Linked DNA regions of Homo sapiens. The protein of the gene in region 4 purifies or fractionates together with the protein of the main gene of each other region. This does not show direct contact. Each region holds a gene or a part of one and is shown on either strand. Other genes may lie near its edges. The genes, in order: ATP2C1, SGPP2, STX18, SLC15A2, MMS19, RNFT1 and OMA1.

Evidence for each region.
Region 1: the proteins of SLC15A2 (region 4) and ATP2C1 purify together in Homo sapiens (affinity purification with mass spectrometry; one large-scale study listed by BioGRID and IntAct). This does not show direct contact.
Region 2: the proteins of SLC15A2 (region 4) and SGPP2 purify together in Homo sapiens (affinity purification with mass spectrometry; one large-scale study listed by BioGRID and IntAct). This does not show direct contact.
Region 3: the proteins of SLC15A2 (region 4) and STX18 purify together in Homo sapiens (affinity purification with mass spectrometry; one large-scale study listed by BioGRID and IntAct). This does not show direct contact.
Region 5: the proteins of SLC15A2 (region 4) and MMS19 purify together in Homo sapiens (affinity purification with mass spectrometry; one large-scale study listed by BioGRID and IntAct). This does not show direct contact.
Region 6: the proteins of SLC15A2 (region 4) and RNFT1 purify together in Homo sapiens (affinity purification with mass spectrometry; one large-scale study listed by BioGRID and IntAct). This does not show direct contact.
Region 7: the proteins of SLC15A2 (region 4) and OMA1 purify together in Homo sapiens (affinity purification with mass spectrometry; one large-scale study listed by BioGRID and IntAct). This does not show direct contact.

What each region holds. Positions count from the first base shown.
Region 1 is NC_000003.12:130,953,008-130,956,898, reverse strand, and holds part of ATP2C1 (calcium-transporting ATPase type 2C member 1), read right to left. Parts: intron 3,079-3,891; coding exon 2,923-3,078; intron 1,888-2,922; coding exon 1,819-1,887; intron 796-1,818; coding exon 720-795; intron 1-719. UniProt on the Homo sapiens protein: ATP-driven pump that supplies the Golgi apparatus with Ca(2+) and Mn(2+) ions, both essential cofactors for processing and trafficking of newly synthesized proteins in the secretory pathway.
Region 2 is NC_000002.12:222,423,214-222,427,701, reverse strand, and holds the start of SGPP2 (sphingosine-1-phosphate phosphatase 2), read right to left. Parts: upstream 3,160-4,488; 5' UTR 3,100-3,159; coding exon 2,881-3,099; intron 1-2,880. UniProt on the Homo sapiens protein: Has specific phosphohydrolase activity towards sphingoid base 1-phosphates. Has high phosphohydrolase activity against dihydrosphingosine-1-phosphate and sphingosine-1-phosphate (S1P) in vitro.
Region 3 is NC_000004.12:4,454,876-4,458,766, reverse strand, and holds part of STX18 (syntaxin-18), read left to right. Parts: intron 1-1,266; coding exon 1,267-1,344; intron 1,345-1,509; coding exon 1,510-1,576; intron 1,577-3,891. UniProt on the Homo sapiens protein: Syntaxin that may be involved in targeting and fusion of Golgi-derived retrograde transport vesicles with the ER.
Region 4 is NC_000003.12:121,928,755-121,932,645, forward strand, and holds part of SLC15A2 (solute carrier family 15 member 2), read left to right. Parts: intron 1-227; coding exon 228-392; intron 393-547; coding exon 548-594; intron 595-2,085; coding exon 2,086-2,196; intron 2,197-2,371; coding exon of another isoform or gene 2,372-2,417; exon of another isoform or gene 2,418-2,878; intron 2,879-2,884; coding exon 2,885-2,981; intron 2,982-3,891. UniProt on the Homo sapiens protein: Proton-coupled amino-acid transporter that transports oligopeptides of 2 to 4 amino acids with a preference for dipeptides. Transports neutral and anionic dipeptides with a proton to peptide stoichiometry of 2:1 or 3:1.
Region 5 is NC_000010.11:97,470,734-97,474,624, reverse strand, and holds part of MMS19 (MMS19 nucleotide excision repair protein homolog), read left to right. Parts: intron 1-3,763; coding exon 3,764-3,850; intron 3,851-3,891. UniProt on the Homo sapiens protein: Key component of the cytosolic iron-sulfur protein assembly (CIA) complex, a multiprotein complex that mediates the incorporation of iron-sulfur cluster into apoproteins specifically involved in DNA metabolism and genomic integrity.
Region 6 is NC_000017.11:59,954,726-59,958,616, reverse strand, and holds part of RNFT1 (E3 ubiquitin-protein ligase RNFT1), read left to right. Parts: intron 1-172; coding exon 173-326; intron 327-1,234; coding exon 1,235-1,393; intron 1,394-2,063; coding exon 2,064-2,129; intron 2,130-3,891. UniProt on the Homo sapiens protein: E3 ubiquitin-protein ligase that acts in the endoplasmic reticulum (ER)-associated degradation (ERAD) pathway, which targets misfolded proteins that accumulate in the endoplasmic reticulum (ER) for ubiquitination and subsequent proteasome-mediated degradation.
Region 7 is NC_000001.11:58,529,475-58,533,365, reverse strand, and holds part of OMA1 (metalloendopeptidase OMA1, mitochondrial precursor), read left to right. Parts: intron 1-2,636; coding exon 2,637-2,765; intron 2,766-3,891. UniProt on the Homo sapiens protein: Metalloprotease that is part of the quality control system in the inner membrane of mitochondria. Activated in response to various mitochondrial stress, leading to the proteolytic cleavage of target proteins, such as OPA1, UQCC3 and DELE1.

The DNA.
Region 1 (3,891 bases), 9.0 Mb from region 4:
AGACACAAGAAAAGGGACAAAAGAAATCGTTGGCAGGTCATAAAATGAAATAAAAATGATCAACCCACACATGACAAAGCATTCGGTTTCCCTAATAATGAACTGTGAAATCAAATAATGAGAACTCTTTTATTTACAGTTGAAGTTAATGACAATACTTAAAGCTGGCCAAAAATTTAAAAGTTACATGGATCCCCTTTGACTAAATAATTTTATTTCTAAGAATTTTTCCTTAAAAAAGAGAGGTATTTACCAGAAGACACCACACTAAAGAAGTATTTATATGACCAAAAAAAAACCCTCAAAAAATCCTAAATGTCTAGAAGAGGTCTTCTTATATGTTTTCCCACAAAATAGAAAACTATACAACCTTTATGTTTGTTTTATGTGACCATCAATTTAATGACAAGAGTTTTATGACAGGATATGTGAAATAAAAATAGAAAAGCAGTCCATAAAACTATCGTATTACATTCTTGTTGAAGACTAGAAAGACAAATACTAAAATGTTTCAAGAAATATTTTCTGATTACAAGAATCAGAGTTCTATTTTTTCTTTGTTGAAATGAACAATGGCTACTAGTAGTCTTATAATTTTAAAAAGTATTAAACTTAATAAAAAAAAGAAAAGCCAATAAATAAAACTAGAATACCACCACCCTTCACATTCAAAAAACAAAACTCAAATAAAAATATATACATACTCACTCTTCTCTTACCTATTATACCAAAGGAGTAAAAGGAAAGTTGTTTTCCTAAGAGGTCCATGCTCTTCTGCAGAGGGGTTTTTGGTGCCTTGATAAATTGAAGAAGAGTGTCACCACAATTAGCTATATTTACTAAGCTTTATCAAGTGCCAGGGGCTTGCTAAGTGCTTGACAAAGCAATTCCTAAGTTAACCATACAACTCTCCCATAAGGTAAATAATCACCTTCACTGAGAAAACTGAGACTTAGATTTTACACAATGCCCAAGGTCACACAGTGAGGAACAGAAATTCTCTATTTTTAAAAACCTGTTTATTATTTGAAAAGGTCCGTTCTCTCTATGCTTCCTTTTGAGGAAAAATCTGTTCTCCCTCCTACCAACCACTGCAGGACTTCATTACCATCAGCTGCTCTCTCACTTGCTTTTCCAATTTTTCCCTTTTGGTATCCACAAACATGCTAGTAACCCAGGTCTTTTAATCCTCCCTCAACTGCTAACCCTCTTCTCTATTCATCCCTTCACTGCCACGCCTCTTGGAATGAGTTCCCACTTTGCATCGCATACTGGAGTTTTGGCAGGTTACCTGAGAAATCCAGAGGATTTGGGGAGAACACGACATTTGCAGAATGAAGCTTCTTTTTATAATAAGAAAGTATTTAAAATGAACTCATCTTTAATACTTTTAGCCGAGAATATCTTGTAGGTTATTTTACTTGGCAATCTTTTCCCTGCCACCCTTACTTGGAATTATGTGAAGTTGAAAAAATTTGATAGAAGACATATTCCAAGGTACAAATATACTAATTACTAATCCTTAAAATTACCACAACACTAATTTCTGAAAATAATAAGATCTACAAATAAGTGGCTATAAGCCTTTTTCTGCTATAAACAATGAGTAAAGCTCAAAATCCTTTAGAATACTAACAACATCAATTTAGACCTTTTCAATTACAGGCTTTCCAATTATGTTTCTAAACAGAGACAACTGATTTCCATTCTGAATAAAATATTGCTCTCAATAGTATATAAAATAATCCAACATTCTCTACTTACAATGAAGAATTTCAGATTTGGAACAAATACATCATTAACATATTAAGTACTCACCTCTTCTGCTTGCATCATTTTAAAAACCTCCCCAAATTCAGAATTTTCTCCTGTTCCAATGACAACACCCTAAGGGGAAAAACAGGAAAATACATTTACATCCAGATGAAATGTAAACCAAAACACATACACACACACATCCAACAACTTTCAAAGTCTTACCTACAGTGAAGATGTCTAACATACACACTCCTAAGATTTCCTCAGCAAATTTACTTTTTTATGTTCCTGTCATTAGCATTTGCCCCTTATGATTTAAACTCTGGAAACAAACATTACATTAAACGTATTGCTGGCCGGGTGCTGTGGCTCACGCCTATAATGCCAGTACTTTGGGTGGCCGAGGCGGGTGGATCACTTGAGGTCAGGAGTTCGAGATCAGCCTGGCCCACATGGTGAAATGCCATCTCTACTAAAAATACAAAAAATTAGCCAGGCATGGTGGGACATGCCTGTAATCCCTACTACACAGGAGGCTGAGGCAGGAGAATCACTTGAACCTGGAAGGTGAAGGTTGTAGTGAGCCAAGATCACGCCACTGCACTCCAGCCTGGACGACAAAGTGAGACTCCGTCTCAAAAAAAAACGTATAGCAGACTCAATTCTGAGGCCTATTTTTTGCCTATATTAGTATTTCTGAAATACAAACATGTATTATACTCAATAGGAGACATTTAATATAGTTTCTTTTTACCCCTAGTGAATGGTGTCTTTTGCACTGGTGGAGTATCAGAATTCAGGAAAGGAAGCATTTGAAATCGATCAACAGGTGAACAACATATAGTCAGATTATTATAGCCAGTATCATATTAACTAAATTAAAATTTATTTAATAATAAACACATCCATGAAAACACTGTTTCTCTCTTTAAAAAGAAACAGGTATTGAGGATTATCCATTATCTGGGAAATAGCAGAACTACGGAAATATTATACTTTGGGGACACAGATTCTCCCCAGTTTCACAAATAGATGTAATGGGTTAAGTTCAATTTTATCCTTTGTCATGTATTTGAAAAATTCCACATAAAATCAGCAAAAAATAATTGAGAAAATAGTTTCAAACAAAGGAACTGCTTTTTTCAAATCAGGAAAAAAATTTACCTTTGCTTTGCCACATCTGACCAGTGTTCCCATAAAGGCAATGTTACTTCTCGATGCAAGATCTCCATTAGTTGCAGCTGGCTGAGGAGCTGTCACCTTAGAACAAGGCGTTGTCTCACCTGTCAAGCTGGACTCATCAATGGAAAGATCCACAGCCTTAGGGAACATAAAGAATCCCAGATTCAAATTTTGTGCTACATTTAACATCTCTAGAGTTCATAACCATCATCACTTCTTCCTCAAACATCCCTTTTCCATTGATTAGCCACATCTTGTATCAAAACCATCACTCTAAAAGACCAGAATCAGTACAATCATATTTTAAAATACAATTAAGTCAACAAAATCTAAGACATGCAAAGTAGAATGCTGTACCATGAGACTAGATTAGCCTAAAATTGAAAATACAACTAGGAAAAATTTGACACTAGCTAAGACTCAATCTTCATCTAGAGAAAACTCAACTTTTCATGACAAAATATTATTTCCTAATTTTGTCAAGTACCTAAAGTTCTGGAAATATGGCTTGGCAGATTAAAACCATCGACGATGACTGAAAGTGATAAATGAATAAAGGGGAAAAATGTTACTTAGAAATCATTTCATCATTTTGGAATCAATTTTCATAAAATCATTATTGTTATACATGCCGTTTATTCCAAATTACAATTTGCAAGACTCAAAAATGTATACAAATGCTTTCATGCAGATCATAACTATCATAATATCTTCCAACTCTGCAACAGGGCTCAGTTTTGAAGGCTTCACTCCTGACACAGTATTTACCTACCCAAGCATACAGAAAAAAGAAAAAAAAAACAATTTTATGAGTATAGATACATACACACATACATACATATATACATACATACATACATACATACATACATACATACATACGAACAAGTGAGGGAGAGGACTAGGGCCAAGTAAGTCAGAAATAGTTAAGAGTTAAACAGCTTCCTCTAC
Region 2 (4,488 bases), on a different chromosome or scaffold from region 4:
AAGAAAACTTCTCTATTGTTTGAAGGGTCCTAAATCAACGTCCTGGTGCTACCTTCTAGGCTATGCGGAAAAATCACTTGATTTTCAACATTCACTCATTTTTTTTTAAAGAAAAACGAAACATCGCCAGTCACAGTGACTGACGTCTATAATTTCAGCACTTTGCAAGGCTGAGGCAGAAGGATCACTTGAGGCCAAGAGTTTAAGACTAGTCTTGGCAACATAGTGAGACCCTGTCTCTACAAAAAACAACAATAACAACAACAACAACAACAACAAACCAGATGATGGCATGCATCCGTAGTCTTAGCTACACAGGAGGCTGAGGCAGGAGAACTGCAGGAGTCCAGGATGTGGAAGATGCAGTGACTTATGATTGTGCCACTGCACTCCACCCTGGGTGACACAGCAAGACCCTGTCTCTTAAAAAAAAAGTTTAAAACTATAATTTTATATTGCAATCTACATGCATGTATTCACAAAAGTCACTAGTCCCTCCTACGTGCCAGGCTATGAGAAAAAAATAAGGACCATAACAGAAAAGTTGCCTGCATTCTTAGAGTTTATCATCCTCTGGAGGGGCGGGGAATAATCAGATATCCACACAAAGGCACATTTAAACAACGTGATAAATGCTGTAATGAAGAAATGCAGAAAGCAAAGAAAAACTATAGCAGGGGGAGCTAGGCTGGAAGGTCAGAGAAGTCACCCATGGAGGAACTGACCTTTGGAAATAGAAGGATGAGTGGGGAGGATATTTAGAGAAAAGACAGGCAGCTCAGGCAGGCCAACGCCTGTACAAAGGCCTGCAGAGAGGGCAGCACACTTTTCACAACTGCCCCCTTAAAGTCCTGTAAATTGCCTGAGTGTAGATAAGAGATAATTTTTGAGGGGGGGAATCAATGTGTGTATGTAAAGGATTAATCTTCCCAAGTCATTTGAAACCAACCCACCTGTAAAAACATTAATTAACCTTTCATTTATCAAGCACTCTCAAGTTTATGATTTCCCCCATTATATACCAACACAATGATTTCTTATCTTGGGCATTCAGCTTTCTTGCTTTTACATGATCTGTAAGCAGAAGTCCTGTGTTGGCTGGGTGGGTGTGGGGAAACCGCCACAATTTCACTCACTGAAGACCCACCAGGATTGTCAAGCAGTAAGAAGATAAAACTGTGTAAGAAATCTGCTTAGCTTGCTTTTAAAGGTCAAGAGGATCCAACTGTGGAGTTTAAAGTTAAGTTACCAGGGGTGATGTTTAAAACAGTTTGAGAAGCACTGGTGGAACAATTCACTCTTTTTCAGCTTCCTGAATTAGAGAAACAGGGTAGAAGCTTGTGAAGAGAGCAACAGAAAGCAACTCACGTGTCTACCTGTGGGTGTAAACAGTGTGTGCACCGAATATGTCACGGCACGTTTCAGCCATGGGACTGTTTTTTGTTTGTTTGTTTGTTTGTTTTGGTCTTTTTTTTTTTTTTTTTTTTTTTTTGAGACGGAGTCTCGCTCAGTCGCCCTGGCTGGAGTGCAGTGGCGTGATCTTGGCTCACTGCAACCTCCGCCTCAAGCTATTCTCCTGTCTTAGCCTCCGGAGTAGCTGGAACTACAGGCCGCACCACCACGCCCAGCTGATTTCTTATCCCCCCTACTCTGCCCCGTTTTTAAGACAAGGCAAGAGAAAAAAGAGGGGTTCTCATACTCATCTATAGGTTACCGGAATGTCACATGGGATAAAGAAGGAACAATAAAGAGGAAAAAATACAGAGGAGGATTTCTCTGGAGTAGAACACACAACCACCCTCACCCTCCCAAACAAATTCTGTAATCCAATGCCTATAATATTCCATTCCACACAGAAGCCAGGTTCTTCGTAATTCCTCAGTTACTACATCTAGAAATTTACACGTAAGTAAAGGCCACCTTTCTTTCACCAAAACCTTCTAGGAAGAACAAAATGTGGCTGTGTACAAGGAATTCGAATTATTAATACGTTTATTTCTGTTCTCCTGCGCCACACTTTTGACTTTGCCGAGGGAAAAGGCAGGTGCTGCCAGTGCTCCCGGTAGACATGCGTCCCCAGAAGCCAAGTGCAGCCCGTCTGGTCCCTGCTGCCTAAAGTCCCTGTGCACTGCGACGACGACGCACGCTGGTTCCCCCCAAGCCGCAGTGGGTTGTATAACCACGCTTTGAACACCTAGCGGGAGCGTAGCGAGCTTCCCTCCCAGAAGCATCTGTTAGAAGTCACTGGTGTCGGTCCATAAAAGACCCACCAGGCAGGAGGGACCCCCAGACTCTGGGGGAGGGCAAGCGAGAGTTGCTGTTAAGACATCATCGCCGGGGGTAGTGCAGGGAGGTTGTAAATCTCTCTAGGAGCTGTGTGAGCCCCAAGTTCTGTGCCCAGAGCTGGCGGTGCAGCGCGGTGAGGAGCGCGCTGAGCCCGGCTGCACCCGCATTTGTGCGCATCAGGGAAGGGGGATGGGCGGAAATGCAAGAATACGGGGGTGGGGGGGAGTCTAAGAACGTCTCCCCGGGGAAGTGCCAAGGACATCCCCGCTCCTCCGTTCCATTACGTAACTCTTACATATTTGCTGGCATCTACGTGAATTTAACTACTTTTGAAAGTGGGAAGTCTCTAAATGGACTGCATTGAAAGCGTCTGGGGATATCTCAATAGACCCGGTTGCCCCTGGCAGCGTTGGAGGGTGGCATCCTGGTTACTGGAAGGCCAGGCCTCCCCGTCCGCTCGCAGCGGCGGGAGCCGGGTCACTGCCGGGGACGGCGCCCTCTCGGCCCGGCCGGCCCCGCGTGGCGGAGTCGCAGGGACCCGCACGTCCGCAGCCGCCCCCTCCCCGTACCCGGCGAACACCTGCCCATGGTTACCTCCGGCGCCGCGGCTCTGCGCAGCCCGTTGGCCGGAGCCTCGCCGCCCTTGCCGTTGGCTGCGGGGAGATGCTCGACCCCGGGGACCCGCGCCGCGCGCTCCGTGGGGTCCGCGCCGTTCTCCCGGGGGCCTTCATCCGGAGCGGGGAAGAGCCCGCAGCGGCGCTGGAAGCGGGCGACGAGCTGGGAATCCTGCAGGCTCCGCAGCAGCTCGGCCATGGTGTGCCCGGGGCCGCGCTCCGCCGCCGCTGCCACGCCGGGCCGGTGCCCTCCGCTGGCACCGCCACTCCCGCCTCGCCCCCGCCGATCCCGCACTCCGGGCGGAGGCCGGGCGGGCGGGGCCCCGGGCCCAGCCAACAGGTGCGCCGCCCGGGTCCTAGCGCCCGCCCAGGTGTCTGCCTCCACCTTGCGCAACGCGTCCCCCTTTCTCTCCGTCCCGGAGGGCTTGGGCGGCCCCGGGCGGCCACGGGGGCAGGACCGCCTGTAACTGGACGGAGGAGTGCCGATCTCCGAACTGCGCCTCTCTTCTCCCGGCGCCCCCAACCCCCCACCCCACCTTCTTCCCCCGGCAGACGTAACACTAATGGGAGCGGCCGAGCGCGCGTGCACCTGCGGCCGCTCCCATTAGCCCATCCTTTTGGGCTCAGGCTGATCCCACAGTGACCTTCCTTGCAACTCTGAGCCCAAGGTGAAGTCGGATTTCCTCCCACGCCAGCTCCCCACAGCCAGCCACGTACTCTCACCTTCCTGCAAGACTAGTTCCCAGTAAATACAGCGAGCCCCCCAGGGAGAATTCCCAAGTTCTTTCCAAACTGCGTGATGCAACGTCTCCCTAGAGGTCCGAACACCCTTGAGCTTGCTCAAGTACCCAGGAGGTTCAAAGTGGGCCCTGAGTCATCTTCCGCGTCGCTGCCCCTGCCCTTCTGATTTGGCAACTGGGGAACATTTTCAGGTGGGTGGGAAGGAAAGTCCCTTCTGGGTTTTCCGCATTGAGAACAAAGATGCTTACCGCTTTCTCCTACTTCTTTCTTTCCGCTCTGCCTCTCTTTAAGCAATGACACTGGGAAAACCCCACCAGACCATTTAGGGAGTTTAAACGAGAAGAGAACAAAGTGCTGGAGGACTGGGGACAGGATTAGGTATCTCATTGCACCTGCACCTGCTTTAGAGCACTCAGCAGAAGATAGCAAAGGAAACATCCTGCAGGCCGGCCTTGGTTTTCCCTCCTCCCTCCTACATTTCCCTCCTGGGCTCAGAGATCCCTTGGGAGGCAACAATCAAATTAGGCCCAGGTGATCAGTCTGCAACAAAAGTGCAATTCAACCCCGTCTTTCGTTTGCAGCAGAAACCTGCATGTTTCCTGATTGTCCATGCAAAGCCTACTAAGAATTTGGTTGCACAAATGATTAATGAACACCTGTCAATGCCTTATTTATTCAGTTGTCCTTTTAGGCCTGAATGTCTTTGGGATGTGACTTTCCAGGATGATGTAGTCCCCTTCATGCCCTAGTTTCTACTTTTCTTGCTTCTCAGTCCTGTCTGGAGAGCAAAGTCAAGGGGACTGAGAGAATGCTGAAGCTCTTAAGGGAAACCATTTTCCTCTTACAG
Region 3 (3,891 bases), on a different chromosome or scaffold from region 4:
GACAATTAGGGAATGTATCTCTAGGGTTGTTATGAGCATTAAGTTAAATTCCTACAGCATGCTTAGAACTGTGTCTGGCACAAGAGCGCTTATTATCTCACTTTCGTTGATGTTTAATTCTCACTGAGACAATGAGATGGCTTCCCAAGTCACGCCTCTTTCTTGATTCTTTTTTAATTTGCTTAGGCATTTACAGAGTACATTAAATAGTAAGTAGAGTTCAAAGCTGCCAGATGCTGTTGTGCTCACAACACAGACTTTTGTTGGGGAGGTTTTTATTAGAATGCTGACGGACCACTTGGAGACTCTGATGGAAGCAATAGGCATTCTTGCCAGAAAAATGTACATACACAAAATTCTATATGCAATTTCACAGAGCTCCTGAGTCCCCCACACAAATCTTGGGTTAAGCAGCCCTATAGTAAGGCAGAAATCATGCCCTCTACCCTTAAGGGCATATACATTCATTGAGAGACCTAAAAAATGCACAGGAATATTTAACAAAACCTACATTTACATATGAAACCATCTAACCTTGGGCTATTTATTGCCTCTGAACCTTAGTTTCTTCACGTGTAAAAATCAGGAAACTCGGAATTGCTATTGTAATTACTAGCAGTACATATGTAAAGTGCTAGCAGAGTACCTGCACGCAGTAGGCACTCAGTCTCTCAGTCAGTGGTCACTATCTTACCAAAACCAGTGGCACAGACTTTAGGTCTGGTAAGGCCTTTTAGCACACTTCTGTGTGGTAGTTCCCAGGAGAAAGGCATCTTTGTGGCTAGGAGTCATAGGTTTCCTGGAGACAGAAAGTTTGACTCATTGTCTAAGGGACCCTTAGAATGTGAGTGGCCAAGGGGAGAGGATGGGGCACTACAGGCTGAAAAGCAGCACAGGTTCAAGCAGGGAGGAGTGTGTGATTTCAGTTGTTTAAACATGTTCGCTGAAGGTCAGCTTGAGCATTGGATGCTGTTAACACAGATGGGGTCAGCACTCAAGAAGTGGCTGCGTCAAATACTATCCTTAAGTGTTCTGATAAACCATAAATTATTTGACTATAGATTTTCTACAGGTTTAATCTTTCACTCTTGCGAAGCCTGATACATCTTACTGTTTTAAAAATGTAGTGTCACTTGGCACAAGACTTGTTTTATAGCTGTGTTTTAAAAAATACTCTCAATAAAGAAAGTGTTGTGAGGAAGCTGATGAATTGCTCTTTAGGATAATTGAGTGCGAAGGCCTGAACATTGTCTTTTTCTGTTACAGCTCACAAGGAGATACATTCCCAGCAAGTGAAGGAGCACAGGACCGCTGTTTTGGATTTCATTGAAGATTACTTGAAAAGTATTTCATTTTCTTTTAAAGGTCAAATGTAACATTTCACAATAGATGTGATGCAGAATTTAGCTTTGCTAGCTGAAGACTGTAGTATCTCATTATATTTAATGATGGCTTTGCCTGAGAAGCTGTTTTAAGCAGTCTCTCTTCTGGTATTTTCTTCTGCAACAGGAGTATGTAAACTTTACTCAGAACAGAGAGCCATCCGAGTTAAAAGAGTGGTGGATAAGAAAAGATTGTAAGTATTGCTTTCATTGGTGTTTCTTAATTAATAATAGTACTACTAATAATAGCAGTTAAAGTTTGTAGAGCACTTACCCTATGCAATGTACCGTGTTTGAACTTCTTCGCAAAATGCCATAGCTGGCGCTACCGGGCACTCACTGTGTGCCAGGCAGCATGCCAGCCACTTTATTGGCCCACAACAAACCCCCATGAGGCAGGTACTGTTTCCTCCCTCATTTTACAAATGAGGAAGTTGAGGCTCAGGAGGCTTGGCCACTCACCCTAGATCCCACAGTCCCACAGGTAGCATAGCTGGGGTTTGAGCCTAGGCTGTTGGTCCAAAATCTGTGCTCTTGCCCATTTTGTCTCTTAACCCGATGAGGCTGGCACATCTTGAGCCATTTTACCTCAATCTCTTTGACCCCCATACCCCTTCTTGTCGTCCCTGAAAGTGTATTCCTGAGAGAAGAGCGAGGGCACAACAAGCAGGCCACCACAAGGCTGTCCTCAGGTCACCTGTGACAGACTTGCTCGATGCCACATGCTCTGAGTGCACACCTCCCTCCAACCCCACTACCTGTCCCATGCAGGCACTATTAGGAGCCCTGTCAGCAGGTAAGGACGCTGACGCTCCAGCAGGGTAAATGACTCATCCAAGGCCACAGGAAGCAGGAGGGCCAGGCTCCTGTATTTTCCATGGCGCCTGCCTGGTTTCCCCTCTGGGCTCACATGAGCATCTGGAATGCAAGAGCTGTGTCCTCACAGTCGTTCCCGCTGCAACTCAGCCAGTCTTGGAGATGGAATACATCAGTGAGCAAGTATCCAAACCTGGACCATTTCTAGACTAGCTTTAGAAAGGTTTTAGGATGTTCTTTCAGAAGATAACATCACATAACTGTTTGGGGACACATTTTCTTTTTTGTTTTTTTTTGTTTTTTTTGTTTTTGAGACAGGGTCTCACCCTGTCTCCCAGGATGGAGTGCAGTGGCACGACCTCCTGGGCTCAAACAATCCTCCCACTTTAGCCTTCCGAGTAGCTGGGATTACAGGCATGTGCTACCATGTCTGCCTATTTTTTAATTTTATTTTATAAGGGTGGGATGTCACTATGTTGCCCAGGCTGCTGTCAAACTCCTGGGCTCAGGCAATCCCCCTGCCTCCCAAAGTGCTGGACTACAGGCGTGAGCCACCATGTCTGGCCCACATTTTTTAAATTCTTACTGTGTCAGGGGTCCCCAGCACTACTCTCTGGTTCTAGGATTCACTAAGAGGTCTCATGGGACTCAACATACAGTCCTGCTCCTGGCTATGATTTGTCACACTGAAAGGATACGAAGCAAAACAGCAAAGGAAAAGGCATGTGGGACAAAAGTCCAGAGGAAACCAGGCATGAGCTTCTAAGAGTACTCTCCCAGTGGAGTCACACAGCATGTGACCTATGACAACACGTGAAGTGTTGTCTACCAGGGAAGCTCATTAGTAACTCATTGCCCAAGGATTCTGTTAGGGGCTGGTCACATAGGCACCTCACACCTGGCATCTACCGAAACTCTAGACTCCCAGGAGGAAAGCAGGTGCTCAGCACTGAACTGCATTCAAACCGCATGTTTTGCAAAACAGTTCAGGCACGGCGAGCTGTTTTTATCAATTAGGATGGCATGAACTCTGCCAAAGTCCAACTTCTCAGATGCCAGGCAAGGGTTAACCTTGCAAGCAGGCCTTTCTAAGGATAGCAGCCTCAGGCCTACTACATGAACCCTTTTCTGCACATTTGTGAAACAGATGTGAAATTGTTAATGCCAACAAATAGAAGCATTTGTGGAAGATAGTAAGCAGATCAGTCAAGTTATCTGTCAGCAACAGCTACTATTATATAATGCACTGAGAGGGTAGCTTGAGAGAAGCCATAGATTAAGTCTTTGTGCTTAGAGAGCTTAGAAGCAGGCTGGGTTGCTATTAAACATGAAAAATTAGTCAGCTTAATCAGGATATGTCATAATTAGTGAAATCGGTAGTAAGCTCAGAGGGGGAAATGGTACGATCAAGTGGCATAGTATAATGCCTAAGAGCCAGACTCTGCAACCAGACAGCCTGTGTTTGAATCCTGGCTCTGCCACTTTCAAACTGTGTGACTTTGAGCAGGTTGCTTAACTTTTCTGGGCTTTTGTTTCCTTACCTATAAAATGGGAAAACTCATAGTACCTAACTTGTAGTGCTGTTGTGAGAACAAAATGAAGATACAGATAAAACACTTACAGTGAGTTAATAAATGTTAATTTGTACTATTATCTACCACTAAGCATTTACCATGTGCCAGGCAGTATATTA
Region 4 (3,891 bases):
ATTATTATACATAATCCTACAATGAACATTCTTATTCATAAATATTTATGCATGGCTCTGATTATTTCTTAGGGTAAATTCCAAGAAATAAAATGGCTAGGTTAAAGAAAGGAATTACTAGGTTGAAAGTGTCTGATGAGGTCACCTACCCTGAGATGCTACATCGTGATGTCCAATATGCAGTAGAAGGTGTACGTGACCTTCATTTTATATTCTTCATTTTACAGAAAACACCACACTATTCCAAACTGCACCTGAAAACAAAAAGCCAGGATTTTCACTTCCACCTGAAATATCACAATTTGTCTCTCTACACTGAGCATTCTGTGCAGGAGAAGAACTGGTACAGTCTTGTCATTCGTGAAGATGGGAACAGTATCTCCAGCATGATGGTAATTTGAGGAATTGCCTGTGTTTTCAGTTGTCATCTCAAAGTAATATGACTGTCTCATCAACATCTTACCAAGGATCTGCCTGATGATCAAATTTTCTGAGTATAGGTCTTATTTCATCAGCTGTTACTGATTTTTACTTTCCTCTGTTGTAGGTAAAGGATACAGAAAGCAGAACAACCAATGGGATGACAACCGTGAGGTTTGAATGTCAATGAGATTCCAGGCCACTCTGTTTTCTTGAATCTTGGATCTCTTCTAATCTTTGGGGCTGCATTCTACTTGTTCTGAACAGGAATTCCCTCTCGTAGAATGCCAGGGGCACTGGTGTCAAAAGGCATTTTCTAGGACAGTGAGAGGCAGATAGGCTTCTTTTCTCATGTGGGATTCGAAGATGACTCTATCTGTGTATGCCCCCTGTACTCTGGGGCATAAATCCTTTCTGCTGAATTTTATCTATTTATCTTGCTCTCAGGAAAATAACTGAGTACTTTTCTCTCTGTGATCGCCAGAGAGAAATTTGGAAGTGAGAAAATAATCCTCCCTTCATTTTTGATAGTTGAATATATATCTTTTAAAGTATAGTTTTTATTATAAGCCTGTAGAGGCATCATGGTATAGCACACATTTGGAGTCAAAAGACTTAGTTTTGAATCCAGATAAGGCTGAAGGGTCTTGTCAAATGGTGAGGGACAGTTACAGAGATGGAGTACCCAAGAGGACATGTGTTCTCTGTGGCTGGTATTAGATATGAAATGGACAGATACACAGGTCTATGGCCACCAAGGTCAAGTGGTTGCTGTTGAGAATAGCATTTTAGTGGAGAACTTTTAGTGAAAAGTCTGGATTTCACTGAAGGTTGGGACAGTCATAATAACTTGCTTTTGAATATGCTTCAAAAAAAGTAAACAGCTCAAAATAAGACAATGTGAGGTCAGAGAGCCATGGGCCCCCAGAAGGGGCATTTTCTAGGTCAGTGTAGAATGATCTAAAGTCTAGGAATCAACATTCAGGACTCTAAAGGGAAATGTCCTTCTTATTCCTGGGGCCAGAGACCAAATCAAAAGCTATCAAAACAGAAATGTACCAAAACCCATCCTGAGAGGACAATCTAGGTGCCAGGTTCAGAAAAATAGAAAGATGGTCTTGGAAGGGTCCAAAGTTTCTGCAGACTCCAAAACAATTATAATAACCTACTCTGGGCTGGGAGTCTGAGTTTTGCATAGGTCACATTGGACTTCATTTATAAGAGGATAAGATATCAGTTTTATGTAAATACTATCATATCTTTATATATGCATAATTATCTTATTTTTCTTAGTAAAGTCTCAGTTGATAGATTCCACCATTATAAGGGAAATAAATTAGATGCACCTAAGCTGGATTAGTGAGGAAACTCAGATTTCCATGAATGATCATGATAGTGTCCGTCTAGCTAGAGGTCTGGTGAGGATGTGGCAGATAAAAGTTCAAGAAAAAGAAACTTAGGGACAGCTAAGACTATGGATTACTTTTTACGTGTGGGTTCATTCGTCTAGTTAACAATATACATTAGGTACCTTTTATGTGCCAGCCACTATCCTAGGCACCTGGGCACTGGGGATATAGTTATACCCAAAACATAAAAGGCCCCTAACCTCTTTTATCAGGTGTTCCTGTTTGTTTGATATGTAAATAATATCTCTACCCTCAGGTTTGTTAACACTTTGCATAAAGATGTCAACATCTCCCTGAGTACAGATACCTCTCTCAATGTTGGTGAAGACTATGGTGTGTCTGCTTATAGAACTGTGCAAAGAGGAGAGTAAGTGCATTGCCCCTGTGGACATTTTACTTTTGTCAATAATTGTTTTTTAAGTGCTATCTTTGTATATAGGTGGGGAACTTAGGTGCATGTGGTCTAATTTTGAGTATAGACGCACTACTGATCTTTTCCAACTCTTGCTTCCTTCCCTCAGTCTCACTTTTTTTCTGCACAGATATGTTGAGATCACGATTGCCGTGAAGACCACACTATATAGTTAACACAGCCCATCTCTGTATAGTTAACACAGTCCGTCTCTGTGAGTTTCTCAAAGTTTATTATTGGTTTCCATTTCTACTAAAGAAGGTACTTTGGTACCTTACACTGGCACTTCATTACTTAGAGCTTATCTTCTCAGGTTCACTGTTATAGCCTGTTCTACTAAGTCATAAGATTTGCATGAGGAAAATTCACATGGTACTTAAGTTAACAAAAGAATATGATTTGTAACTTCTTTATTTAGGTTGAATATTTTAGAAAATACCTGACAAGCAATAAAGAGCTCAAATCAGGGACAGAAGCCTGGCATGAAAATAACCTACTCCAAGAAACATTTCTCTTCAAAGATAATTAGTGGCTTCACTGCTTTCCTCACCATCAGTAGAGAGATGAGATCACTTTCACCTGGAGATGGGAATGCTTTTCCAAGCCTTGATATTTATTCTAACCTAAATTCATCCTGTTCCAGATACCCTGCAGTGCACTGTAGAACAGAAGATAAGAACTTTTCTCTGAATTTGGGTCTTCTAGACTTTGGTGCAGCATATCTGTTTGTTATTACTAATGTAAGTAGCTCACAGCCACCTCTTTACCCTCTCTCCATATACATATATCTCCTGAGATCCTCTAGGCAGGGGCAGAAAACAAAAGAGAAGACTCTGTGGCAAAGCAGACACGTATATTTATTTCTAGCATAAGATGACAGGTTCTACAGTGACTTTAATTATTTTTATTTTTATTTTTTTTGAGACAGAGTTTCGCTCTCATCGCGCAGGCTGGAGTGCTGTGGCACCATCTCGACTCACTGCAACCTCTGCCTCCCGGGTTAAAGTGATTCTCCTGCCTCAACCTCCCCGAGTATCTGGGATTACAGGCACCCACCACCACCATGCCCAGCTAATTTTTGTATTTTTAGTAGAGATGGGGTTTTGCCGTGTTGGCCAGGCTGGTCTCAAACTCCTGACCTCAGATGATCCACCAGCCTCAGCCTCCCAAAGTGTTGAGATTACAAGCGTGAGTCACCGCACCTGGCTCTACAGTGACTTTAGAAAGCCCACTGTCTCTGTAGGGGTTGTTAAGAGATAACATCAACAACAAGCAAAGGGTCTTGGGGAAGGAGAAACATAATTTATCTTGAGCCATCACTGTGAGATGCCACAGCTTGCTCCAGTCTTTTTATGTCTCCAATCAAACACAAGTTATTTATGAAAAAGTACTAATGTCTTCTTGGCCAGCTTCATATGCAGATCTTCTCACTCTCTGGAAATTTGATCTGCTAGCATGTCACAGTCTGAAATACTGAAACTGATAATAATGTCAATCCCTACACAAAGTTTGGGGATCAGTTAACTGTGATCTGTCAAAAACAATTGTCCTAGCAGTCAGGGCAGAGTAACTGATTTTAATTTTGATGTCAATCTTGACTTTAATTTTGTTATTTCATTATTATTCATACTGTATTAAAGACTAAAAGAT
Region 5 (3,891 bases), on a different chromosome or scaffold from region 4:
AGTTACAAATACTCTTTATTGTCTTACAAATCAGGGTTTTTATTGTTGTTGGTTCTGTTCTGTTTTGTTTTGTTTTTCAGACAGGGTCTCACTCTGTTGCCCAGGCTGGAGTGCAGTAACACAATCCTTGCTCACTGCAACCCCTGCCTCCGGGGTTCGAGTGATTGTTGTGCCTCAGCCACCTGAATAGCTGGGATTACAGTACGTGCCACCATGCCTGACTAATTTTTTTTTTATATTTTTTAGTAGAGATGGGGTTTTGCCATGTTGTCCAGGTTGGTCTCGAACTCCTCACCTCAACTGATCTACCTGCCTCGGCCTCCCAAAGTGCTGGGATTACACGTGTGAGCCACATATCCAGCCACAAATCAGTATTGTGTGCCATCATAGTGGATCTGATGAGCTTAAGGTTCAGTTTCTTCACTATGCTTATATGCTCACTCTAAGAAGAGGTTGGCAAACTTTTTCTTTCCCTTTTTTTTTTTTTTTTTTGAGGCAGGCTGGAGTGTAGTGGCACCATCACAGCTCACTGCAGCCTCCACCTCTCTGGACTCTGGTACTCTGGTGATCCTCCCACCCCTGCCTCCCGAGTAGCTGGAACCATAGGCACATGACACTACTCCCGACTAATTGTTGTATTTTTCTATAGAGACAGGATTTTGCCATGTTGCCCAGGCTGGTCTTGAATTCCTGGGCTCAAGCCATCCACCTGCCTCGACTTCCCAAAGTGTTGGGATTACAGGCATAAGCCACCATGCCTGGCCAACTTTTTCTATAAAAGGCCAGACAGTAGCTTTGTGGGTCATATGGTCTCCTCAACTCTGCTGTTACTGCACAAAAACAGCCTTAGACACAGGAACAGCTACAGTAGCTATATCCCAATAGAACTTTTGTTATCAACACTAAACTTTGAATTTCATATAATTTTCACTTGTCACAAGATATTCTTTTGGTTTGTTTCAAACATTAAAAATGTTAAAACCATTCTTAGCCAAACAATGTCAACAGGTTGATTTTTACTCCTAATGCAGAGTAGATATTGGTTCTTCCTTCACCGTCATCCTAGATTCCCTTATCCTTTTTCTTGGATCAGATCTCCTGTTTCCTGAGTTCACATATTCCTCATTTTGTGGTTTACCCCCTCAGTTTGATGGTGTACTTCCTTTAGTATTTTCCTGAGAGAATGTATGAAGAAGTGAGAATTTTTTAGATTTGTAACCCTTAAATGCCTTCAATCTTGTCTCTCATTTTTGACATTATGGGCATGTAATTCAAGAATAGAAATTCTAGGCCGGGCGCAGTGGCTCACACCTGTAATCTAAGCACTTTAAGAGGCCGAGGCGGGTGGATCACTTGAGGTCAGGAGTTCGAGACTAGCCTGACCAACATGGTGGAATCCCGTCTCTACTAGAAATACAAAAATTAGCTAGGCGTGGTAGCAGGCGCCTGTAATCTCAGCTACTTGGGAGGCTGAGGCAGGAGAATTGCTTGAACCTGGGAGGCGGAGGTTACAGTGAGCCGAGATCACGCCATTGCACTCCAGCTTAGGCAACAAGAGTAAAACTCCATCTCAAAAAAAAAAATAAATAAAAAGAGAATTCTAGCTGGATGCAGTTGCACATGTCTGCAGTCCCAGCTACTTGTGAGGCTGAGGCAGAACAATCACTTGAGGCCAGGAGTTTGAGGCTGTAGTGCACTATGATTGCACCTGAGAAAGAGGCCAGGTGCAGTAACTGACGCTTGTAATCCCGCTACTTTGGGAGGCTGAGGCAGGTGGATTGCTTGAGCTCAGGAGTTCAAGACCAGCCCGGGCACCATGGCAAAACCTTGTCTATAAGAAATACAAAAATTAACTGGGCGTGGTGGTCGAGTCTGTAGCCCCTGCTACTCGGGAGGTGGAGGTGGGAGGATGGCTTGGGCTGGGGAGGCAGAGGTTGCATTGAGCCAAGATCATGCCTCTGCACTCCAGCCTGGAAGACAGAGCCAGACTCAGTCACCAAAAAACCAAAAACAAAAACAAAAAAAAAATGGAAATTATTTTCTCCTAAGATTTTGAAGGCATTGCTACATTTAAATCTAGTTATTGGCTGGGCGTGGTGGCTCATGCCTGTAATCTCAACACTTCGAAAGGCCAAGGCAGGCGGATCACCTGAGGTCAGGAGTTCAAGACCAGCCTGGCTAACATGGTGAAACCCCATTTCTACTAAAAATACAAAAAAATTAGCCGGGCATGGTGGCGTGAGCCTGTAATCCCAGCCACTCGGGAGACAGGCAGGAGAATCGCTTGAATCCTGGAGGCAGAGGCTGCAGTGAGCCAAGATCGTGCCATTGCACTCCAGCTTGTGTAACAAGAGCAAAACTCCATCTCAAATAAATAAATAAGCCTAGTTATCTAGTTTTCATTTGCTGTGGAGAAGTCTGAATTTCTTCTGTTTCATAAACTTTTGTATTTACCATTTTTTTCTTCCTCTCTATAAACTGATGTTTGGTTCACCCCGATACATTGAAACTTCACAGTGATGTGCCTTAGTATTGGTCTATTTCATGTACTGTGTTGGGTACTTAGTAGGCCCTGTCAATCTGGTAACCCGTGTCCATTAGTCCTGTAAATTTTTCTTGAATTCTTTAATTGATGATTTCTTCCTCTCTCTTTTCTCTGTTCCTTCATTTTGGAACTCTCATTAATCTTCTGTTGGACCTCTGATTTTCTGACCTTTTGTTTTCTATTTTGTACCTCTGTCTTTTTGTTACTTTATAAGAGAATTCCACAGTTTTATCTTTTCTATCAAAGTCCAGTCATGAAAACAGAAACCAGGCCAGGTTCGGTGGCTTACGCCTGTAATCCCAGCACTTCGGGAGGCTGAGGTGGGTGGATCATTCGAGGTCAGGAGTTCCAGACCAGCCTGGCCAACATGATGAAACCCCATGTCTACAAAAAATATATAAAAATTAGCCAGGTGTGTTGGTGCGCCTGTAACCCCAGCTACTTGGGAGGTTGAGACATGAGAATCACTTGAACCTAGGAGGTGGAGGTTGCACTGAGCTAGGATCAAGCCACTGCAATCCAGCATGGGTGACAGAGTGAGACTCTGTCTCAAAAAAAAATAATAATAATAATAGTAAATCCCTTCTTTTACTATGTTTTTGGTGGAGTTTGCAAAGAGGAAAAGGAAAACCTGATATATGTTTTCAGTCTGTCGTCTTGGTACAGAAACCATCAAGGCTTTCTGTTTTCAGAATTACAGCTTTTTATAAGGGTGAAAAAAATGGAAATGTCCATCAACAAGGAATTATCTAGATAAACTGGTACAACCACAAAATGAAATCATAGCCACTAAAACTAATGCTATGAAAGAATAATACCATAAAAATGTTCTTAATATGTTAAGTGAAAAAAATTAAAAACCACATGTACAAAATGATTTTTAAGTATATATATATTTTATATGGAAACAGTATATACTAGCACATAGTAACAATATATATCAGCGAAGAAAGGAATACACCAGAAAGTTAAGCATGCTTATTTCTGAGTGGTGAAATGATAGAAAATGTGTAATCAGATTTTTTAAAATGCCTAAAGACAAAAGTTCCCAAGGAGTACCTAAGATCAAGCAAGTCTTCTTGCTGGGGCCTCATTATCTTACTATCTTCCCTGATTGGGTATGAGTATCACCCTGTTCTGCAGGGTTACCAGGTTCGAGCCTGTGTTCAAGGTGGTCTGAAATGTTACACAAACCCACAGCCCTTCTCCCTTTTCCAGCCACCTAATGATCCCCATGGTATCCAGAGAGAAGACCTCATCCTGAGTCTTCGCGCTGTGCTGGCTTCTACACCACGATTTGCTGAGGTGGGTCTAGCCAAGGTTAGGGTATATAGCCTCTGCCCATA
Region 6 (3,891 bases), on a different chromosome or scaffold from region 4:
AAGTCTCTTTAAGCAAAATGATCCTCCATTCCATTATTGTGAACTCTGACATCCTGCCAAACTCATATTTTTTACATATCAAAATAAAATATTTGTAGCAAATTAAAACCCTTTATTAATACTTTATCTTTGTATGTTGCTCTGATAAATTTTGATGTTTTTCTTTTGGTAGCTTAATTTTTTTAAATCCTACTTTGGACCATTTGAGCTTCTGGGAAGTATTTTGGATTGTTGGAATTACAGACTTCATTCTGAAATTCTTTTTCATGGGCTTAAAATGCCTTATTTTATTGGTGCCTTCTTTCATCATGCCTTTTAAATCTAAGGTAAGAAACTCACTTATGCTTTATTGGAGTGATGTTATCGAATCACATTAATGCTATTTAGTCTTTGTTTAAATGAATCCTCCTTTTGCAGTTTTTCAGTTTGCTAACTAGCTTAATTATCTGTATTATTTCAGCTTAGCAACCATTTGTTCAGGCACTTGAACCTGATTATTAACCTATTTGGATAAAATCAGAATTATATTTGCTTCAGAATAATTTTAAAATCAGTCCCCACATCATATGTGGGAAACTATTTAGATGTGTACTTCTGTTCTCCAGGGCATTATCAATTGACAGTTGACTATGTACAATTATTCAGTGGTTTCCCATATGCACTAAAAACTTTTAAATTCTTATAATCAGCAAAAACATACTCACATAGGTTTTACTTGCAGTATACATAAAACATTCTCATTGTATCTTTTTTTTTGGTTTTGTTTTGTTTTGAGATTGTCTCTCGCTCTGTTGCCCAGGCTGGAGTGCAGTGGTGTGATCTTGGCTCACTGCAACCTCCGCCTCCTGGGTTCAGGCAGTTCTCCTGCCTCAGCCTCCTGAGTAGCTGGGATTACAGGTGCCCACCACCACACCCAGTTAATTTTTGTATTTTTAGTAGAGACGGGGTTTCACCATGTTGGCCAGCTGGTCTCGAACTCCTGACCTCAGGTGATCTGCCCATCCCAAAGTGCTGGGAGCCACTGCGTCCAACCTAGAAATTCTTTCAAAGCAGGCCACTCAGTGACTGTAATATGTGAGAACCAGCTTGAGGTTCAGTCATAATCATTATGAAGATTAATTTTATAGTTATTTATATTATTGTATAATATACTCAGTGTTCTCAGTCTAATATTGTTTGTGCTATGTAGTTAAGTAGTTTGGGTAGCTCTATTTGTTTTCTTCTTATTTTTTAGGGTTACTGGTATATGCTTTTAGAAGAATTGTGTCAATACTACCGAACTTTTGTTCCCATACCAGTTTGGTTTCGCTACCTTATAAGCTATGGGGAGTTTGGTAACGTAACTAGATGGAGTCTTGGGATACTGCTGGCTTTACTCTACCTCATATTAAAAGTAGGTAACATTACAAATCTTGTCACTGCATGATTCACATTAATGATTACTGATACATACTACTGTTTTCCTCTTTTAACAGTTTTATAGTTTATCTTCATATCACTAGTTTGAAGTAATAGCAGGTTCTATATTTGTTTAGAAATGGAGAAACGGAAATAGACTATCTTAATCCAGCGGTCCTCAGGTTTCACTGGAGGGAAGGGGAGTCGACCTTCACATAGCGTGGATTATCTAAGTAGGGAAAACAAGTGGAATAGAACATACCCATCCTCAACAGTAACATTGTCATACACATAATTCTTAAACTAGTAGAGTATCTTGTCCTGTTCTCTCCATGCCTGCACCCCTCAACCTAATAATCACTTTATGAAACTTTAAAATCTAAATGTTAAAAACAGGTGAATCAGATAAAATTGCTTTGACTTTGACATAGTTGTATTTGTCTTGATCAAATTGTTACTCTAGGTGTTTAAATGTACTTCAGCTTGCTGAGATGGCTCAAATCTATAAATTGAATAAAATACTCAGCACAAAATGATTAGATGTGACATATAATGAACATTAAGTTAATATGAGGATTTGATGTTATGGGATTTCAGCTTTGGTTTTTGGGTTTAGCAAATAGGACTGTTTGAATTAATAAATGATCTCTTATTTCTCTTTTCAGCTTTTGGAATTTTTTGGGCATCTGAGAACTTTCAGACAGGTTTTACGAATATTTTTTACACAACCAGTAAGTACTTTTTATCAGTTAAGAAAAACACCTTCACCTTTCTTCACTGCAAAAATTTTTTTAGTTCAGCAGTTTTACAAGAATGGATTTCATAAATAGATGATCCTTTTCTTTTACTTTGATTATTTTCTAGTACTTTGGCACTTGGGGCTATAATAATTTAGGAGTTTTATCTCTGTGATCAGATTCTTGAATCACACATTGACAACCACCTGCTAATTGTTGCAGTGCTTATATATTTGAACTTGTCTCTTGCCTCTTCAATCCACTGGACATTTTTAAGGCTTGTAAACCCTTAACAATCTTATGAAATTGTGTTCCTCTTTTTTAATCCACAAATGGGGGCTTTGTTTGTTCCTATTAACTCCTTATTCACCTGTGAAAATCCTTCCATTGTAATTTATTGTTTAGAAAGCTCACTGCCAAAAATCATGTCTCTTGCAGTTTTCTTACTGGAGCAGATTTCCCCATTGCTCAATTATATGTGCATAAATACGTTCATGGCATGAAATTTAACAATTAATTGAGTCTCTGGTGTCATTTATAACATTATTGTGTGATTCTATTGATGTTGCAAATTGCAGTGAAAGGATGTCATAGAGAACCCTAATTTACCACTTAGTAGCCTGAAAGGTTCCTAGTACCTATGTGTGGTCAGCAGACTTCAGGGTTTGATTCTCAATTTTGCAGTCATTTCATCAGGGCCCAAGGAGACTGACTTAAAAGAATGCCAACCGAATAATATACCGTAAAAATAAAAAAAGAATTATGTCTACAAAGTAAACGAGACTAACTGGCCAGGGCCTTTTCCCTAAGATAGAGTTAGCAATGTAGAAACAAACTTTGCTACATCCTATGCAAGCTTGTTTCTCTAGACAAGACATAATAAAATTCAGAGAGTTCAGCTTTGTCCAAGTCAGTTCAACTGATGATTATGTGAGCATCAACCATTTTACTATAATTGGTCTTGTAAGATTTGTGCCGAAATACTCTCAAGAAAATACCCTGATATTCTTTCTCTGAGACAAACTACAGAGAGGATATCAGTCATCAATACTTGGATTTGTTCAAGTCTCCTTTACCAGGGAAATGGCAGTTACTATCTGGAGAGGGAGTCTCCAAGATGCCAGATGAGTAACGTCTTAAAAGCTTGTCAGCATAATTATCTGCAAATGTACTTTGCTAAATGACACCTTACTGAAGGGAAATTGACACCAAGATCATCTAACAGTATCCTGACTTATTTCTGAAATCTTTATTACCAGTTTCAAAAAACCTCAATTTTTAATATCTTTATCCTTTGAGTTTTACTTTGATTTTGATGTTGTTAGCCTGAGACGTTTTAGTACAAGAAGTTTAGATAACTTCAGCTATGTTAAGTCATGCTTTACCCTCATGACCGTGACTGACTTGGGTGTTCTTACATCTCTTTAGTTACCTCTTCCCCATCATTTCTACAGAAAGCAGGTTTCATTTGTAACATTTTGATTTCTCCAAATTTCACTGAGGGTTATTGACATCACATCTAGTTAATGACTAAGTTCTGAATCTGGTGAGGAGGTTAAAATCTTAGAGACGAGTAACTTGTTATTAGGACATTAGAAGAGAAGAAAATTCAAATAATTGCATTTTTGTTCAGTTAGTTTTGACAGTAGTTATTCTACCAAAGCGACATTTACAGTTGCAGTTTCTCCGTAAAACTTTTTTATGTTTAGCACTAAATGCTTTTTATAATTTCGAATAATTTTTAGACCTAGTGGCA
Region 7 (3,891 bases), on a different chromosome or scaffold from region 4:
TAATGTTTAGAAAAACAGTAACATGACTAACCTGACAAAGTAACCGAACTGGGACTTTAACGTGGGTCTTCTGTATGTTAGTCCAGTGTTTCTTCCTTTCACTACAGTTACCTGGTTTTTAGCAGCGCTTTTCTTATAGATCATAGAATTCAAGTTGATGTATGCTCCTGTGAATACATGTCTGTTCATCTTGATATAAGTCCAGGAAAAATAACACATCTGTTTCACACATTTTTTAAATTGTTATTCATTTAAAAATATAAATGGCTCTTTTGTCTACATTAGAGAAAGTATTTTTTAAATTGTAAACGCAAAGGTACATAGTGAAGTGACTGAAATGCTAAATCAGAAATACAAGTAACATTAACTTCAAATGGAAATGATAATGATTCTAATCCTTCTAAGAGTAATCTCAAATTCTACCTGTTCCTTAGACTATTAATAAGATGAGATGGGCTAAATTGTTTTTCTGAAACACTGAAAGTAATTATCTCCTTGATTTCTTTTGAGTTACAGGAAGATTTTAAAAACATTTTTCTTGACTGGGTGCAGTGGCTTATACCTGTAATCCCAGCACTTTGAGAGGCTGAGGCAGGAGTATTGCTTGAGCCCAGGAGTTTGAGACTGGCCTCGGCAACATAGACTCAGTCTGTACAGAAAAATTTTAAAAATTAGCTGAGCATGGTGGCTCACACCTGTAGTTCCAGCTGTTCTGGAGCCTGAGGCAGGAGGATTGCTTGAGCCTGGGAGATCAAGGCTACAGTGAGCCATGATCGCACCACTGCACTCTAGCCTGGGTGACAGAGTGAGACACTGTCTCAAACAAAAAAGTAAGAAAAAAAATCTTTTTTTCTTAAACAAATATACACAAGAATACGTCTAAGCAGTGTTATTATATGCACTCTAATATCTTTCAAGTAATGGCTTCACAACTGCAAAATCAGTTTTGGCCATTTTAGCATTTGAAAGGTGTTACTATTCAGTACATTTGTTTTTTAGGCATCTAGTTCAGTGCCTTATATTCAGTGTATTGTCATCTCTATCAGTGCAAGAACAGTAGTAGATGAGGTGTAAAAAGCAAACAGCAGCCTTAAAAATAGAACATAGTTATTAATATGTTTTTGCAGAGATCTTAAACATTGTCAGCACAATATTTTCTCTTTTGGGAGTCTCAGTTTTGATTTTATCTAGGCGTTTATGTTTTCTTTATTCTACAAATACAGGTTTTTGTGTGTGTATTTCCAGTTTTCTAAGACTGTATAATAGCAATTATATTCTTTAATAACAAGGGCTTTCTCTTCTATAACAACTTCCTTATTTTGAGTTTCACTTTTTCATGTTAAAATAATTTCATAATTGGGCTGGGCACAGTGGCTCACCCCTGTAATCCCAGCACTTTGGGAGGCTGAGGTGGGTGGATCATGAGGTCAGGAGTTCAAGACCAGCCTGGCCAACATGGTGAAACTCCATCTCTGCTAAAAATACAAAAAATAGCTGAGCATGGTGGTGGGTACCTGTAATCACAGGTACTCGGGAGGCTGAGGCAGGAGAAACATTTGAACCTGGAGGCGGAGGTTGCAGTGAGTCGAGACCTCGCCACTGCACTCCAGCTTGGGCAACAGGGCAAGACTCTGTCTCAAAAAAAAAAAGATAAATCCATAATTGTTTTTCAAAACACACATTTGTGTTTTGAGGCAAAGTAATGAGGCAAATATAAGGAGGTAAAGTATGTTTTGTGAGGGTACAATATTTGTTAAGGGACAATATTCTAAGTCAGTTTTTAGTTTTCAGTCATTTTTCATACATTCAAGTAATGACTGCTATTTTATCAGTTTCAGCATTACAACATTAACATTTACTAATCACCTTTAATGGCAAACCATGAACAATCTAGTTCATTAAACTTAGATATTACTACTCAAAACAACTATTTTATGAAAAATCTTTTTTGGTAACTGATATAAGTAAATACAAAAATTCATAGAACCTGATTCTTTCATGATAAATACTAGACTTACAAATTTACAAACTTGTATAAATGAATAATATTTCATATATTAGGTCTTGAAGATCAGAATACTTTTATTTAAAATAAACTTCCAGTCTTTTTCTGAATTTTTTCTTGTTTTAAGTGCTTCATATGTTAGGTAGTGTTTAGTCTTTATCCAAAAATATTAGTAAAATAAAACATTTACTTGATTTTTTAAAATGATGCAACTATATTAAAAACTAAAACTGACCGGGTTTGATTTCTGGTCCTTTTAGTAATAGCTGTGCAAATCTGGGCAACTCTTAACCTCTCTCTATCTCAGTTTCATTATCTATAAATGTAGGGATAATTGTAGCTATTTCACAAGATTATTATGCCTGTTAATATAAGAAATTGTAGGTTTATATCCTCTGACTAATAGTAAGTGGCTTAGTAGATACTAGTTAAATGAATGAATAGGTATATAAGTAGATAAACCAAGGAAGGGAAAAACAGACCCGGAAAGAATAAGCAAAAGAAGAAAAAGAGAACTCTCAGTCTTAGGTGGAGAAGGTCAGGTAATTGTAACACATGATGAACTAGAAAATGTAAGCATATACTGTCTCAATGTATAAAATGTAGTTTTTATTATTTTGATTATTCTTAGGCAGAAAAGGCTGGCATGGTTCATTTGTTGGATTTCCTAGGTATGATTTTCCTCACAATGATTTGGGCCATTTGTCCTCGAGATAGCTTGGCACTTTTGTGCCAGTGGATACAGTCTAAATTGCAGGAGGTAAGTCTGAGACAATAACTTGAATTGATCATAGCCTCTGGTGAAGATATTTTAATACTACTGTAAAGCAGCAAATCCAGAGATGTTTTTACATTTTACTATGAAATATGGGTACGAATTTTTAGTGTCTTATGTTTTCTCGTTTTTAGGGGATATTCTTATATATGAATATTTAAATTAAGGAATACTACATCTCTCAAATGATGGGTATGGAGAGTTAGAAGGGCTTGGCAACTTTTGGCTAATAAAATTTTTGAAAATATATTTATTGGTTTTACAGAGAGAAAACCCAGCCACTGACCCTTCCTTTCGTAGTAACTGAATGACTCCCAAATTCAGCTGTCCCTTGGTATACAGGACTTCTTGTGGATACCAAAATCTGAGTATGCTCAAGTCCTTGATAAAAAATGGCATGGTATTGGCCGGGCGCCGTGGCTCATGCCTGTAATCTCAGCACTTTGGGAGGCCAAGGTGGGTGGATCACGAAGTCAGGAGATTGAGACCATCCTGGCTAACGTGGTGAAACCCTGTCTCTACTAAAAATACAAAAAAATTAGCCTGGCGTTGTGGCGGGCGCCTGTAGTCTCAGCTACTTGGGAGGCTGAGGCAGGAGAATGGCGTGAACCCAGGAGGCAGAGCTTGCTGTGAGCCGAGATTGCGCCACTGCACTCCAGCCTGGGCGACAGAGTGAGACTACATCTCAAAAAAAAATAAAAATAAAAATAAAAGCATGGTGTTTGCATGTAACTATGCACATCCTCTCATATACTTTAAATCATCTCTAGATTACTTGTAATTCAATGTAAATGCTATGTAAATAGTTATTTTACTATATATATTTTTAAGTTGTAGTTTTTTAAATTGTTTTTTCGTAGATATTTTCTATCCAAATTGGTTGAATCTACCAGGTGCATAATCCACAGATATAGAGAGCCAACTGTATTTGGGTTTTAATGCGGCACTGTTAAAACCTCTGAACTTTAATGGGCACAGAATTGGCTAAAGCTACTTTGCCATCCTTCCTTGCTTTTCACTCTGTTAAAATATCATTGCTTTGAAAATGCTGAAAGGAAAGTCTTACTAGGTGTTTGTTAACTTTTGTTTTTAGTGCTTATGTATAATAATC